Linked DNA regions of Homo sapiens: region 2 is linked to region 1. The links come from fine-mapping of genetic effects on gene expression. Tissue or cell type: tibial nerve. Region 1 holds a variant in brackets; the other region holds the start of a gene. All regions are shown on one strand. Distances are between the middles of the regions.

What was found. PIP is the estimated chance that this variant, and not a neighbour inherited with it, causes the effect.
Region 2: EVI5 starts here. The variant in region 1 is fine-mapped to the expression of EVI5 in tibial nerve (GTEx, PIP 0.92).

What each region holds. Positions count from the first base shown.
Region 1 is chr1:92,559,719-92,567,825 of GRCh38, forward strand. EVI5 (ecotropic viral integration site 5) reads right to left here. Exons shown (of 20, transcript NM_001350197.2): 19 at 3,924-4,019. Among named protein-coding and RNA genes, the nearest start is that of GFI1, 77 kb to the left of the region's middle. The variant C/G (reference allele first, on the strand shown) is at 3,517.
Region 2 is chr1:92,780,190-92,788,276 of GRCh38, forward strand. EVI5 (ecotropic viral integration site 5) reads right to left here and starts at 4,919. Exons shown (of 20, transcript NM_001350197.2): 1 at 4,647-4,919. RefSeq lists a silencer at 4,500-4,769 and an enhancer at 5,040-5,319.

The DNA.
Region 1 (8,107 bases):
AGCCAAGATCGCGCCAGTGCACTCCAGCCTGGGAGACAGAGCAAGACTCCCTCTCAAAAAAAAAAAAAAAAAAAAAAAAAGCTTCTTGGCATTCCCATGCAACTTATATGTGACCTCATCTGCAAAACCTTTCACAAACATCATTTTTTCATTAGAAACATTTTCACATAGTACCTACTACATGCCATCATTGTTCTATATACTGGGGGAAAAGTACTCAATCTCATTAATAATCAGGGAAATGCACATTAAAACCATAATGAGAAATCTCTTCATAGTCACAGAATGGCTAAAATAAGAAAGACTGACAATTCCACATGTTGATGAGGATGTAGAACAGTAAGAACTTTCTTCACTGCTTATAGACAGTATAAACTGGCATAAATCACTTAAAGCAATGTTCTTAACAGACCAACTGGAAATAATCCAAATGTTCACCAACACAGTAGATGAATAAATCATGGTATATTTATGCAAAGGAAAATTACACAGTGATGAAAATGAACAACCTACAGCTACATTTTAAAATGACAAAGTAAAATCTCACAAACAATGTTGAGCAAAACAAGCAAGACACAAAAGAAAACATACTGCAAGAATCCATTTATATAAAGTTCAAAAAGTTAAACTACTGTATTAGAAGTCTGAGATCATGGTTACCTTTGAGTAGAAGGGAGAGAGTACGGGTTGAAAGAGTATGAACAGGGCTCTTGGGTCTATTTCTTGGACCTAGGTAGTACCTACATGAGTGTGATCATTTTGTGATAATTTATTGAGCTGTAAACTTTTGACTTGGACACGTCTCTGTATGCTATGCTGCTATACAAAACTTTTTTTTCTTTTTTTTTTGAGACAGGGTCTTGCTTTGACACCCAGGCTGGAGTGCAGTGGTGATCACGTTTCAGTGATCACGGTTCACTGCAGCCTTGACCTCCTGGGTTCAAGTGATCCTCCTGCCTCGGCCACTGGAGTGGCTGGGGCCACAGGTGCATGCCACCAGGCCTGGCATTTATTATTATTATTTTTAATAGAGATGGGGTCTCCCTATATTGCTCGGGCTGGTCTCGAACTCCTGGGCTAAAGTGACCCTCCAACCTCGGTCTCCCAAAGTGCTGGGATTACAGGCATGAGCCATTGCACCCAGCCTACAAAAGCTTTTTTTTTTTTTTAAAGCTTCTGTTCTTTATCTAACTTTCATGATTATGAAGCCATTCAAATGTTAAGGATAATAACCAGGGAACTCACTAGGTCTCCTTTGTGAGGAAGCAGTGGAGAACTTGTTATTTAATCTTAGTATCAGGAATAGATGTGGCTCTTCTAGCTAATTGGTCTGTTTTCATCACATAGACACTCTGAAATGTTTAAGTGACCAGGTTTTCTTTTGCGTTGGCTGCTAAAAGCCTTAGAGCCAAATCTGAGGCCCACTTACAGGAAAGAGATATTTTTATGGTAAGCATTTTTATAATGGTCTTATTCATGCTTCCATATTATATTTCTACAGTTTTTTTCTTTCCTTTTTCTCCCAAAATTGTAGTTTATTATTTTGTAGCAGTTGCAAATTTCCTTAATTCTATCTGCAACAAGGAAGGGTATTAATAAATAAAAATGCTTTAAAGGTTTTTTTTCCTTTCTTTTCAAAAAGATGCAGTTTGGTTTCCACTCTTTAAATCTGCACAATCTAGCTTTTAATTTTAACAGTAGAAAATTCTACTCTGTTGATTAATTTTCTTTTCATGTTTGTATAAGGTAAGACTGCTTTCTTAGGCCACACGTAAAAAACTGACATTAAAGTTAAACTTCATGTGAGTTATTTTCTGGCAGTCCTGATGAGACTGACTATCTATCTATCTATCTATCTATCTATCTATCTATCTATCTATCTAATCTATCCTATCTATCTATCTATCTATCTATCTATCTATCTATCTATCTATCTATCTATCTATCAGAGTCTCACTCTGCTGCCTGGAGTGCAGTGGCATGATCTCAGCTCACTGCAACCTCCGCCTCACAGGTTCAAGCGATTCTCCTGCCCCAGCCTCCCCAGTAGCTAGGTTACAGGCACACACCACCATGCCTGGCTAATTTTTGTATTTTTAGTAGAGATAGGGGTTTCACCATGTTGGATGGGCTGGTCTCAAACTCCTGACCTCAAGTGATCTGCCTGCTTCAGCCTCCCAAAGTGCTGGGATTATAGGCGTGCGCCCACACCTGGTCAGAATATCATTATTTTTAGTCAAAGCATATGACAGGGAAAGTTAATGTTTGTTGACTGACTTTTACATTAGTTTTAGAAATAAAGTCAATCTATACGTAACTTTCTTGTTTCAGCAACATTAAAGCTTCCTTATAATGAGACATCAAAATTTTAAATGGGAGGTTGCTTTATTTTAATCACAATTTCCTCTGAGAACACCTTTTGAACATAAATAATTCCTGGGGTTCTCAAAAGAATAAAGATTTCTACAACACACTTAATTGTAACTTGTTCTTTCACACTATGGCTATCGATTTAAAAATATTATAATAGGCCAGGTGCAGTGGCTCATGCCTGTAATCCCAGCACTTTGGGAGGCTGAGACGGGCGGATCATGAGGTCAGGAGATCAGGACCATCCTGGCTAACACAGTGAAACCCCGTCTCTACTAAAAAAATACAAAAAATTAGCCAGCCTGGTGGCGGGCGCCTGTAGTCCCAGCTACTCAGAAGGCTGAGGCAGAAGAATGGCATGAACCTGGGAGGCGGAGCTTGCAGTGAGCAGAGATTGCACCACTGCACTCCAGCCTGGCCGACAGAGCGAGACTCCGTCTAAAAAAAAAAATTATAATAAATACACACAAATAGGTAAAGATTATATGTAAGATCCTGAATCCCTCATATGTTATCATGGCTGAAAATTGATATTTACAGGAATGATTCCCCAAATTTCAAAACAAATTAAACTGAGCCACATCTAAGATTTACTGTTTTTGTTTATGTTTTGTTTCTTCTTCATTTAGAATTAACTCTTAGACTGACTACCTCCAGGAGGTATTACCCAAAACATACAGACTTTAACTGAAGGGTGTAATACCAGGAAAGGGTAACGTCTAAACTTTTTCCTGTGAGGTTTAAATTCATCTAGTGGTCAAAATTTCTCTTTCTTCTTCTTTTTAAACAAATAAAGGTTATACTACCCTCTCAAATCTCATCACTGTGAATAAACATTATTTTATAAATAATTCAAAACAAGAAAGATGGTATTCCATTAGTGTTTAGCCAAATATTATCATTAAAACAGAAAATAATAAAGGATAAGAAAATTGACCTCGAGCCACATTAACATATCTCTCTAATCAAAACATACTAAATACTTTAAATTACTCAGTATAGTACTTGGTAAAACTGAAAATTTTGTGAGTTGAATCTCACAGATTCAAGGTAGTACCAGTTTAAAAAGCATTCAGATACTAAGAAATCTGTTAACTGATATTAGGCAAGTATCCTTTTTTGCAATCTCAGTAATACCATCATGAG[C/G]GGTAAAAGAAGACAAGAGTAAAAAGACTTCCTTCTGCATGCAACGGTAAATACCACAAATCTATTCTATAGGTATAAGCAAAATTTTAGTTTAGTTAAAGTAACTTTGACATCTATGCAAACTATCAAGAGTTTTTACACCACAATAAAAAAATAAAATATTTGCCATGAAAATATTAATTTATCATTCTAGGTCATGCTAATGAGGTTAAGGGAAATAAATCCCCAATATTAGAACAGAAGATCCTTGCTAAAAAGACAATTTTCAAAAATGTTATTAATTATAACCAATAATTCACAGAAGATATTCAGCATGAAAGTGTCAGTCTTATAACCAGTAATAAAGTGTTGTTACAATACAGAGGAAGGAAGAAAGCAATATGTGAAGATCAAAATTTATCACTTACCTCATGATTCAGCTCTGCTATCTGATCTTTCAGTTCCCCAATATACTGGTTAGAATCAGACTTGTTAAGCTGTCCTTGAAGCTTTCCTTCTTCTTTCTGTTTTGTGACAAAACAACAAAGCAAAAACAAGAGGCAATTTTTCACAGCATGTACTCAAATAGTTCAAGGTATAGGAAAAGCATAGGCACATACCCTTTAATCACCTGAATTCTGAACAAATCCATTCTCAAACTACCTCTGACAAACAATTCATAATGAACTATGCTTTAATTAATTAATTAATTTATTTATTTAGAAACAGAGTTTCGTTCTTGTTGCCCAGGCTGGATGGAGTGCAACGGTGCCATCTCGGCTCACCGCAACCTCTGCCTCCCGGGTTCAAGCAATTCTCTTGCCTCAGCCTCTAGAGTAGCTGGGATTAACAGGCATGTGCCACCACGCCTGGCTAATTTTGTATTTTTAGTAGACACAGGGTTTCTCCATGCTGGTCAGGCTGGTCTCAAACTTCTGACCTCAGGTGTGATTATTTCTTTAAAAATGCTTAATAAAGGTTGTTTATAATAAATATAATTTATAAAATATATCTTTTGAAAGAGTCTCAGAAATCAGTAATTGAATGGATCTACTGATGAAAAAATTACCCTAGAATTTCAAAGTAATTTATCTAGTTATTTTGAGGGCAGATGATTTTCTATTCATACCGTAAGGGATTCAATACTTAGTCAAGAAGATGGCAAGCTTCCCATATTCTTTCATTCTTGGGAATCTGCTTTTGCTTGGGGAACAGAAAAGGGGGGAAAAAAAAGAAAAAGTTGTCCAAATCACTCTAAAAAGGGGAGGACAACTTTGAGTCTCCTCTGGTTAATTAGCTCTCGATGTGGACTGGAAGTCCCAGATACAGCTGATTAAAAGCTGCTTCTGATCCTAAGAGTTTGTTTCAGGTGAGCACTGGGACTATTTTCTAGGGATATAGATTGGTGAAGAGAGGCACTTTTTCTTATACCACCTGAAAACGAACATAAATTATTTTTCAGATAAAGATTTTTTTTTTTTTTTTTGAGATGGACTCTCGCTGTCACCCAGGCTGGAGTGCAATGGCGCGATTTCGGCTCATTGCAACCTCTGCCACCTGGGTTCAAGCAATTCTCCTGCCTCAGCCTCCTGAGTAGCTGGGATTACAGGTGCCCAGCACTGCGCCTGGCTAATTTTTGTATTTTTAGTAGAGACAGGGTTTTGCCATGTTGGCCAGGCTGGTTTCGAACCCCTGACCTCAGGTGATCCGCCCACCTTGGCCTCCCAAAGTGCTGAGATTACAGCGTGAGCCACCATGCCTGGCCTAGATAAAGAACTTATTAAACAGTGAAACTAGAATTGTTTTTGATGTCTCCAGATTATTTATAATTAGGAAGCCATGTGTTGATGCTTAAAATGTTAAGCAGCTCTGATCCGGAGCCATCTACTGAAACTACTGAGTAACTCCTGATACCAAAAGAGTATGGGCTTACTTTTAACAGTTGCCAATCACCCAGTTTCCTTTCATGGAGACAACAATTGTTAACAGTTTTTTGGTGTAGTCTTTCCACGATATTTTACACATATATAATCAAACACACATGAATACATGCACACGTTTATCCATACTACAGACACTATGTATGCTACTCTGTACTTTGCTATTATCTCTCAATAATACAACTTGAAGATCATTCAATATCAGTACATATGGAGCAGAAAGATACACATTCTAACTTTAGAGAGCTTTGAAATTCCTGTAAAAGTTACCTTAGTAATATCCAAGTATTTACAGGTTTTTTTAAAAGCAGGTTTAAAACGTGTCTTACAATTACCTTGAGAGAAATGGGTTGCTGTGAAAAGCATTTGTCAATGTGGAGATTCCTCCCATATTTAAAATCACAGTCAGAAGGGACCTTGAACATCCTCTGACTTAGTCCTCTGACTGGTCAACTCTACCCTCCAACTTCATCCTACATACTGTATACTAACATCATTGGCAGGAAGTACCAAATAGAACTGTTCTAGCAACAGGCCAGGCGCGGTGGCTCATGCCTGTAATCCCAGCACTTCAGGAGGCCGAGGCAGGTGGATCACCTGAGGTCAGGAATTCAAGACCAGCCTGGCCAACATGGTGAAACCCTGTCTCTACTAAAAATACAAACGATTAGCCGGGTGTGGTAGTGTGTGCCTGTAATCCCAGCTACTCAGGAGGCTGAGGCAGGAGAATCGCTTGAACCTGGGAGGCGCAGGTTGCAGTGAGCTGAGATTGCGCCACTGCATTCCAGCCCGAGCAAAAAAAAAAAAAAAAAAAAGAAATGTTCTAGCGACAGAGTGGGTAGCACTCCTATAGGGTCAAGCATCTTTCCAACAACACTGCTGTTCTGTGTTAACTGTCCTCCCTACCCAAATTGTATCTCTAACTACCCTTAGTTTGTTCTTCAACTCCTTTCATCGACTTATTCCTAAAAACTCCCTGTTTTTTGTTTGTTTTGCTTTGTTCTCTTTCTTTTGACAATCTGTCTTAAAAACCTTTTACTAGAATATGGCCTGCTGAAGTGGTTTAGTGTAATTAATATTTGCATAGATATAAAAGCCCAACTACAGCTTCTATAGACTTAAAAATTTTTTCTTATGCAGTCATGTTCCACATAATGATGTTTTGGTCAATGACGGAATGAATACATGATGATGGTCCCATAAGATTATAATAAGAAATTCGTAATGCCTAGTGACATTGTAGTTGTACAATGTCATAGTAAAACACATTACTCGTGTTTGTGGTGGTGCTGGTGTAAAGAAATCTACTGTGCTGCCAGTTGTATAAATGTATGGCATATACAATTATGCACAGTGGATAATAATTGACAATAATAAATGACTATGTTACAGATTTATGTATTTAACATACTATATTTTTTATTATTTTAGTGTATTCTTTTTATTTATACAAGAAAAATTAACTGTAAGCTTCAGCCTGGTCCTACAAGAGATATTCCAGAAGAAAGCATTGTTCTCATAGGAGATGACAGCTCCATGTGTAATACTATTGCCCCTGAAGATCTTCCAGTGGGACAAGATGTAGAGGTAGAAGACAGTGATCCTGATGATCTTGACCCTATGTAAGCAGAGAATAATGTGTGTGCCTGCTTTTTTTTTTTTTTTTTTTTTTTTGAGGCAGAGTGCCCCTCTGTCCAGGCTGGGGTGCAATGGCACAATCTCGGCTCACTGCAACCTCCACCTCCCAAGTTCAAGCGATTCTCGTGCCTCAGCCTTCTGAGTAGCTGGGACTACAGACGCACACCACCATGCCTAGCTAATTTTTATATTTTTATTAGAGACGGGGTTTCACCACATTGGCCAGTCTGGTCTTGAACTCCTGGCCTCAAGTGTTCCGCCCACCCGCCTTGGCCTCCCAAAGTGCTGGGATTTACAGGCGTGAGCCACCACGCTCGGCCATGTGCCTAAGTTTTTAATAAAAAAGTTTAAAGAGTTAAAAAAACAGCTTATAGAATAAAGACACAGAGAAAGAAGATATTTTTGTACAGCCATACAATATATTTAAACTAAGTGTTATTATAAGAGTCAAAAAGTTAAAAAAAATTAAGTTTATAAAGTGAAAAAGTTACACTAAGCTAAGGTTAATTTATTATTGAAGAAAAAGAAAATAAATTTACAGTATAGATTAACTGTACTGTGTTTATAAAGTCTACAGTAGTGTGCAGTAATGTAGGCCATTCACTCACTGACTCACCCAAAGCAACTTTCAGTCCTGCAAGCTCCATTCATGGTACCATGCTCTATACAGGTGTACCATTTTAAATCTTTTATATCATATTTTTACTGTACCTCTTCTATGTTTAGATACACAACTTCTGACCATTGTGTTACAACCGCCTACAGTATTCAGTAGAGTAACATGTTGTATAGGTTTGTAGCCTAGGAGAAATAGGCTATACCATATAGCCTAGGTGAGTAGTAGGCTATACCATCTGGGTTTGTGTAAGCACACTCTATGATTCACACACTGATGACATTGCCTAAGTATGAATTTCTCAGAACATATTCTAGTTAAGCAATGCATAACTGCATATTTACACATACTAATATCAGATACAGTTATCTAAGCCAAAACTGTCTTATTTAACAATTACTATATTCCAAATATGCTA
Region 2 (8,087 bases), 220 kb after region 1:
GTTCCCCTGTGAAGAGGTGCTTTCCACCATGGTTGTAAGTTTCCTGATGCCTCCCCAGCCATATGGCACTGTAAGTCAATTACACCTCTTTTCTTTATAAATTACCCCGTCTTGGGTATTCTTCATAGCAGCATGAGAACAGACTAATACACCTGTGAGACTCCAGACTCAAGAAAAGTAAAGTAAGGCTCAAGGCTGAAAGCCAAGGGGTTAAACAGAAGTGTGTTTGATGAAAAGCAGCCCCTGCCCACAGCCCACTTTCTTTGCCCACCTCTCAAAGTTGGAGAGCTTATATTACCACATATCAAAGCTTATTATAAAGTTACATTAATACAGTGATATTAGTGCAAGGATGACAAATATACAAATAGAACAAAGTATCCAGAAACAGACCCACACTAATTTCATAAATTAGCTGACCATACTGTTATCTAATTTATGAAAAAAAGTGCCACACAGTGCAGATGGACAAGGATGGTATTTGCAATAAATGGTGCTGGATCAAACAGACGTCTATATAGAAAAAAGTGAATCTTGGCCCGGTGCAGTGGGTCATGCCTAAATCCCAGCACTTTGGGAGGTCAAAGCAGGTGGAGATCATGTTACTGCACTCCAGCCTGGGTGATACAGTGAGACCTTGTCTCAAAGAAAAAAAAAAGTAAATTTTTTTTTTTTTTTTTGAGACCGAGTCTCACTCTGTCGCCCAGGCTAGAGTGCAATGGCACAATCTCGGCTCACTGCAACCTCTGCCTCCTAGGTTCAAGCGATTCTCCTGCCTCAGCCTCCTGAGTAGCTGGGATTACAGGCACCCGCCACCACGCCCAGCTAATTTTTGTATTTTTAGTAGAGACAGGGTTTCGCCATGTTGGCTAGGCTGGTCTCAAACTCCTGACCTCATGATCCGCTCGCCTCGGCCTCCCAAAGTGCTGGGATTTCAGGCATGAGCCACCACGCCCGGCCTAAAAAGTGAATCTTGACCCCTGCGATTCATCAAGAATTTACTCTAAATTATATACCTTAAATGCAAAAAGTAGGGGATGGGTACAGTGGCTCACACCTGTAATCCCAGCACTTTGGGAAGCCGAAGAGGGCAGATTGCTTGAGCCCAAGAGTTTGAGACCAGCCTGGGTAATATGTTGAAACCCTGACTCTACAAAACATACAAAAATTAGCCAGGCATGGTGGCATATGCCTGTAGTCGTAGTCACAGCTACTCAGGAGGCTGAGGTGGGAGGAATGCTTGAGCACAGGAGGCGGAGGTTGCAGTGTTCTGAGACTGCACCACTGCACTTCAGACCCTGTCTGAAAAAAAAAAAAATTTTTTTTGCAAAAAGTAAAATAAAATTGCTATAAGACAACACAGAAAAATATGTTCATATTCTCAGGTTAGGCATTGATTTCTTAAATAGGACACAAAAAGCAGTAACCATAAAGGACAAGATTGATAAAGTATACTTCATTAAAATTAAGAATCTCAGGCTGGGTGCAGTGGTTCATGCCTGTAATCACAACACTTTGGGAGGCTGAGGCTGGTGTAGGTGTATGACTTGAGCCCAGGAGTTCGAGACCAGCCTATGCAACATGGCAAAACCCCATTTCCACTAAAGATACAAAAATTAGCTGGGCATGGTGGTGCTCATCTGTAGTTCCAGCTACTTGGGGGTTAAGGCAGGAGGAATACCTGAGTCTTGGGAGATCAAGATTGCAGTGAGCCGTGATCGTGCCACTGCACTCCAACCTGGGCAACAGAGTGAGATTCTGTCTCAAAAAAAAAAAAAAAAAAAAAAAAGGCCAGGCACGGTGGCTCACACCTGTAATCCCAGCACTTTAGGAGGCCGAGGTGGATGGATCATGAGGTCAAGAAATCAAGACCACCCTGGCCAACATGGTGAAGCCCTGTCTCTACTAAAAATACAAAAATTAGCCGGGCATGGTGGCACACACCTATAGTCCCAGCTACTCAGTAGGCTGAGGCAGGAGAATTGCTTGAACCCGGGAGGCGAGGGTGCAGTGAGCCGAGATCGCGCCACTGCACTCTAGCCTGGCAACAGAGTGAGACTCCATCTTACAAAACAAACAAACAAAAAACACACACACACACAAATTAAGAATCTCCAGGCATGAAAAAAAACACCATTAAAAGACTGAAAAGGCAAAATACAGACTGAAAAAAATAAAAATGCAATACATATATATCCTAGAAAGGACTCATATCCAGAATAAAGCATTATAAATGAGAGAAAAATAAGCATATCAACGAAAACTGGGCAAAAAGACTTAACAGGCACTTCACAAGAGGAAATATAAATGGTCAACAAAAGATACTCAACCTCAGTACCAGGAAAATGCAAAATGAAACCACACTGATATATTACTGTACCTCTACTAGACTAGCAAAAAAAATTTCAACTGACAAGCACCAGCAAGGATGTGGGGTAACCGGAACATTCCCTGCTAATTGGTAGAACCACTTTGGGAAAATGTTCAACAATTTCTAATACTAGAGTTTTATCACCCACGTACCTATAAAACCAACAATGCCACTCCTACGTACATACTCCAATCTAGTAATGTCCTATTTCTTGATCTTTGGTGGTTCACTTAGTAAAAATTCATTACCTGCGATGTTTTTTGTTTTTGTTTTTTTTGAAAGACGGTCTCACTCTGCCGCTCAGGCTGGAGTGCAGTGGCATGATCAAGGCTCACTGCAACTTCGACCTCCCCGGCTTTGGTGATCCTCCCACCTCAGCCTCCTGGGTAGCTCGGACTACCAGCGCACACAACCACACCCAGCTAATTTTTGTATTTTTAGTAGAAAATGGGGTTTTGCCACGTTGCCCTGGCTGGTCTCAAACTCCTGGGCTCAAGTGATCCACCTGCCTCTGCCTCCCAAAATGCTAGGATCACATGCGTGAGCCACCGCACCCAGACCACCTGCACATTTAGAATTGTGAACTTTTTCTCTATACTTCAATAACTTAGTTCTAAGATTTATTTGACACAAAGTTCTCGGAAATCGTAGTTATCATTTTAGAACAGAAAAAAGACCACCTGGGCCAGGTGCGCTGGCTCACGCCTGTAATCCCAGCACTTTCGAAGGCCGAGGCGGGCAGATCATTTGAGGTCAGGAGTTCGAGACCAGCCTGACCAACACGGTGAAACCCCGTTTCTACTAAAAATACAAAAAAAAAAAAATTAGCCGGGCGTGGTGATGTACGCCTGTAATCCCAGCTACTCGGGAGGCTGAGGCAGGAGAATATATCCAGCCTAGGCAACAGAGTGAGACTCAGCCTTAAAAAAAAAAAAAAAAAAAAAAAAGAAAAGAAAAGAAAAGAAAAAGAAGGCCGGGCACGGTGGCTCACGCCTGTAACCCCAACACTTTGGGAGGCTGAGGCGGGTGGAACACGAGGTCAAGAGATCAAGACCATCGTGGCCAACATGGTGAAACCTCATCTCTACTAAAAATACAAAAATTAGCTGGGAGTGGTGGCGCGCGCCTGTAGTCCCAGCTACTCGCGGGGCTGAGGCAGGAGAATTGCTTAAACGCAGGAGGTGGAGGTTGCAGTGAACCAACGTCGCCACTGCACTCCAGTCTGGCGACAGAGCGAGACTCCCTGTCAAAAAAAAAAAAAAAAAAGAAAAGAAAAGAAAAAGAAAAAGAGCTTCTGGTACACTGGTGAAATTCTACTAACAAAATTTTAAAACAAAAAAAGTTACTTACATCAGCTCAGAACAAAGATTAAAAACTACCAGCAGATCACTTTTCTTTAACTTCAGTAAGCACTGGAATTCATTCTTTCGGCAAAGAAAGGAGTTTATTATTCAACACTGTAACCCAAAGAAAAGATACCACTTCAAGAAAATACTTCTTTTCGAAAGCAGCTCTACCAGCAATAGATAGGAGGAAAGCGAGGAAACCATTCCAAAAGGCTTGGTTTAACTCTTGGGTGAAAGGATGCCAAATGAGATGATCTAAGAAGCCCCAAAGACAGACAGACAGACAGACACAGGGAAATCACAGCAACTCTTTTGAGTGGAAACACCAACACCACAATCCAACCTACCGGAAATCCTGAGGTTAATTTGAGGCTTGCCCCACTAGTCATAAGGTGATTCAGGAATGGCTACAAACTCTTCTCAAGTTCATTCTGGACCTGGCACATCTGTCTTGCCCATCAGCAGCCTGGAGACACGCCATGCGCAGAATCCCGGAGGCCAAGTAAAGACGCCAACTTTGCAAGTCAGGGGGGCGAGTGCTCTCGCCCCTCAGGTCCCCAAAGGGAACCGACTTCTGGCCTCGAGGGTGGGGTGCAGGGTCAGTGTCCTCCACGGGATTTACGAGGACGTGCCCCCGAAGCTGCTCCGTCCCTCCACCGCCCTGGGACGCCACAGTTAGACCCGCCGACGAGTTTCTTCCCCAGCGCCCACGAGAAGGAGGGCTGCGGGCGGCGGCGGCGGCGACAGGCGAGGAAGCGAGTGCAGGGAACTTAGGCCCTGGCGGGGCCAGGCGCGCCCGCCCCGCTCCCACAGCAAAACTTGCGGCGGCCCCCGCCCGCCGCGCCTCGGCCCAGCTGTGCGCCAGCGGAACACGGACTCACCGCCCGCCCGGCCTCCCGGCCCGCCCGGCCTGGCGCAGCGCCCCTCACCTTGGAAACGTTGAGTAGACTTCGCCGTAAACATTAACTTCCCATCCAGCCGGCAGCCGCGCCGCCGCGTCTCAGCGCCTCGGCCCCGCTCCTGGCTCCACGGGTCGCCCGTCCCGAGTTCCCAAAAGCACCACGCTCACTCAGAAGCTCAGGGCCGCCTCGCGACCCTCACCTACCCCTCCCGGCACCGCCGCTGTCGGAACTGCAGCCAGCCCCTTGCCAGCTGGCCAGCTGGTTCCTCCGGGGTCCGGCCCGGCCGCGTCAGGAGAGCCCAAGGCGCAGGCGCGGGAGGGCCTTAAAGAGACCCGGCAGCCTCTACCGCAGAATGGGTTGGAGCAGGTTAGGGGCCGGGCGGGCCGGCCGAGAAAAGGAGAAGGCGAAGGGATTGGACGGAGTGCAGAGGAGGCGGGGAAATCGCTCTCGCCCTCCGCCTCTCTTTCAAAGCACCAGCCTTCAGTCCTGCAAGTCGCCGACTTCCCCGGCCACTGGAACCGCCCCTTCCATGTTAAAACGGTAGAAGACACACCCCCTCGGGGGCCCGAAGCGACCCCGAGCTTAGGACTGCAGGCCTCGCGCTGCCGCACCGACGCGGAGCCTGACTTTCAGGGCCCTGGCACGCGGTGCTGACGCGCATGCTTCGGAAGGCAGCCCCGAGCTCCCCCAGAGGTGGCCTTAGGGCACTCGCAAAAACAATAATCAACGCGTAAATGACACTTGTAATTGTAATGTACTCTTACACGTGTCTTCGCATTGGGTTTATGCAGACTACTGCAGGGGGCAGAACATGGGCACGAATACGTAAGATTCAGCCGGGCAGCCCTCCAGCGTCAACGAAGACATTCTTAGAAGGAAAGTACTTTGTTTGGGACGGAAACAGCCTATTAATTTCTGGTCCAGGAAAAGCAGGCAAGAAAAAGTAAAAAGGCAATACAGATTACTTTCATTATATGTTTAGAAGTGACAGCCGGGCGCGGTGGCTCACACCTGTAATCCCAACACTTTGGGAGGCCGAGGCGGGCGGATTGCCTGAGGTCAGGAGTTGGAGACCAATCTGGCCAACATGGTGAAACCCCGTCTCTACTAAAAATACAAAAAAAAAAAATAGCCCGGCGTCGTGGCGTGCGCCTGTACTCCCAGCCAAGCTACTCTGGAGGCTGAGGCAGGGGAATTGCTTGAACCACGGAGGTGGAGGTTGCAGTGAGCCAAGATCGCGCCACTGCACTCCAGCCTGGGCGACAGAACGATACTCTGTCTCAAAAAAAAAAAGGGACAAAAATTATAATAATTAGCAGCACAAGAAACTCCGGAATTATTTGTCTAGAAATTAGTATCCCTATTTTTAAATTTAAATTTATAAGACAGAATTCGCAGATGGGTTTCCACTGAACTAAGCATTTCAGAAAAAAAAAAAAAAAAAAACCTTACTTTTTTTTCAACAAGATTAGGAAATACCAAGAAATAGGAAGTAAAGCCATGCCCTCCACCCAGCTAAAAACTTTGAAAACTTGAACTTTTATCTGAGGCATATGTTTGCATAACTTTAGGTTGTGCCATTATTTAAAGAAATTTCAATTAACAATTTTATTGCAACTCAATCCTTGTATAAGAAAACTAAGCTACATCCTTGATAATGTACCTCTCCCCTCTTATATTCCATCCGTCAGCAAATTCTATTGGTTTTTCCCTTACAAATGGTCCTTGAATCTGTCCTCTCCTATTTCCTCCATCACCACCCTAGTCTAGGCTACCTTCACCTGGGGAGTGGGGGTGGAGGGATTACTGACCTAGTCTTCTTGTGGTTTACCCATATTCCCTTTATCCCCTCTCTAATCTCAACACAACAGGCAGAGTGACTTTTTCAAAATAACAGTGTGACCCTGTCACTTCCCAGCCTAAACCACTTAAACACTTTCCCATTCTCTTAGAAAAAACCCTCCTAACTAACCAAGCCCTGAATGGCCAGGTGCCTTGCCCACCTCTCCACCTCTTCTCACTGCTCAGACCAATTCCACCCTGCTGTCTGTGCTCCAGCCACGCTAGCCTCTTTTATTCCCTATTTACCGGCTTCCTGGCCTCAACAGAGCTTTTACTCATGCTTTGCTCTGTGCCCAGAAAGTTCTCCCAGTCCTCATCCTTTGACAACGGCTCTAGTATCCACCTCTGAGAAGCATCTTCTGACCTCCCTATGGTGGTCTCTTACTCCTTTCACATCGCATGAAACTGTAATTGGGTAGTTATATTGGTGAATTTTTTACTATTAGCTCCTTAAGTCCAGGATTTGATTTTGTTTGTTTCATGGTTGTATTTTCATATTTGTTAAATATATATTTGTTCAGTAAATGAAAATTATAGATGCTAAAACTTAAACTAAATTTGGCATAAAGTCAGAGAAAGGTAAAATGTCACCATCTGACATTTGGAATCAGAATCTAAAAACTTCAGTTATGTTAAAACTGATTTTATATCATTTTAGCTGGGTTGTCACAAGATTCTTTGGGTAACCTTTAAAACAGTTCTCAAAGAGCCTTTTGTAAGCACCTGAATTAATAATGATAAGACATGGGATGGCCCACATAAAACTAATAACATTGATTGCTTCAAGAGAGGAAGACTGAGCCAAGCACGGTGGCTCACGCCTATAATCTAAACACTTTGGAAGGCTGAGGCCGGCGGATCATTTAAGATCAGGAGTTTAAGACTAGCCTGAGCAATATGGCAAAACCCTATCTTTACAAAAAAAAAATACAAAAAAAAATTTAGACAGGTGTGGTGGTAGGCACCTGTAGTCCTGCTACTTGGGAGCCTGAGGCAGGAGGATTGCTTGAGCCTGGAAGGGTGAGGCCGAAGTGAGCCATGATCGTGCCACTGCACTCCAGCCTGGGCGACAGAGAAAGATCTTGTCTCAAAAAAAAAAAAAAGAGAGAGAAAGAGAGAGGAAGACTGGGTGACTGGTGGGTACCAGTGGGAAGGAGATTTTTACTGCATGCCCAAAAGGTTTAAAATTGTACCTTTTTTATCTTAAAGTATGTGAATTATCTATGTGAAGATAAATGACACAAAGTATGTGAATTATCTATGTGAAGATAAATAAATGACACAAAAGAGTGTCATACTGTTCCATTTATTTGAAATTCTAGAAAAGAAAATTAATCTGTGGTGAAAAAAAATCATAACAGTGGTTCCCTGTGGCAGGGGATTGACTGGGATGGTACATGAGTGAAATTTCTGGGTGGTAAAAATGGTCTCTATCTTGATAGGGATGTGAGTTACATAGGTATATTCACTTATCAAAAAATATGCAGGTAACATTTCAGTGAATGTAAATTTTACCTTAAAAACTATAAAAAATAGTGGCCGGGCGTAGTGGCTCACACCTGTAATCCTAGCACTTTGGGAGGCCAAGGTGGGTGGATTGCCCGAGCGGAAGAGTTCAAGACCAGC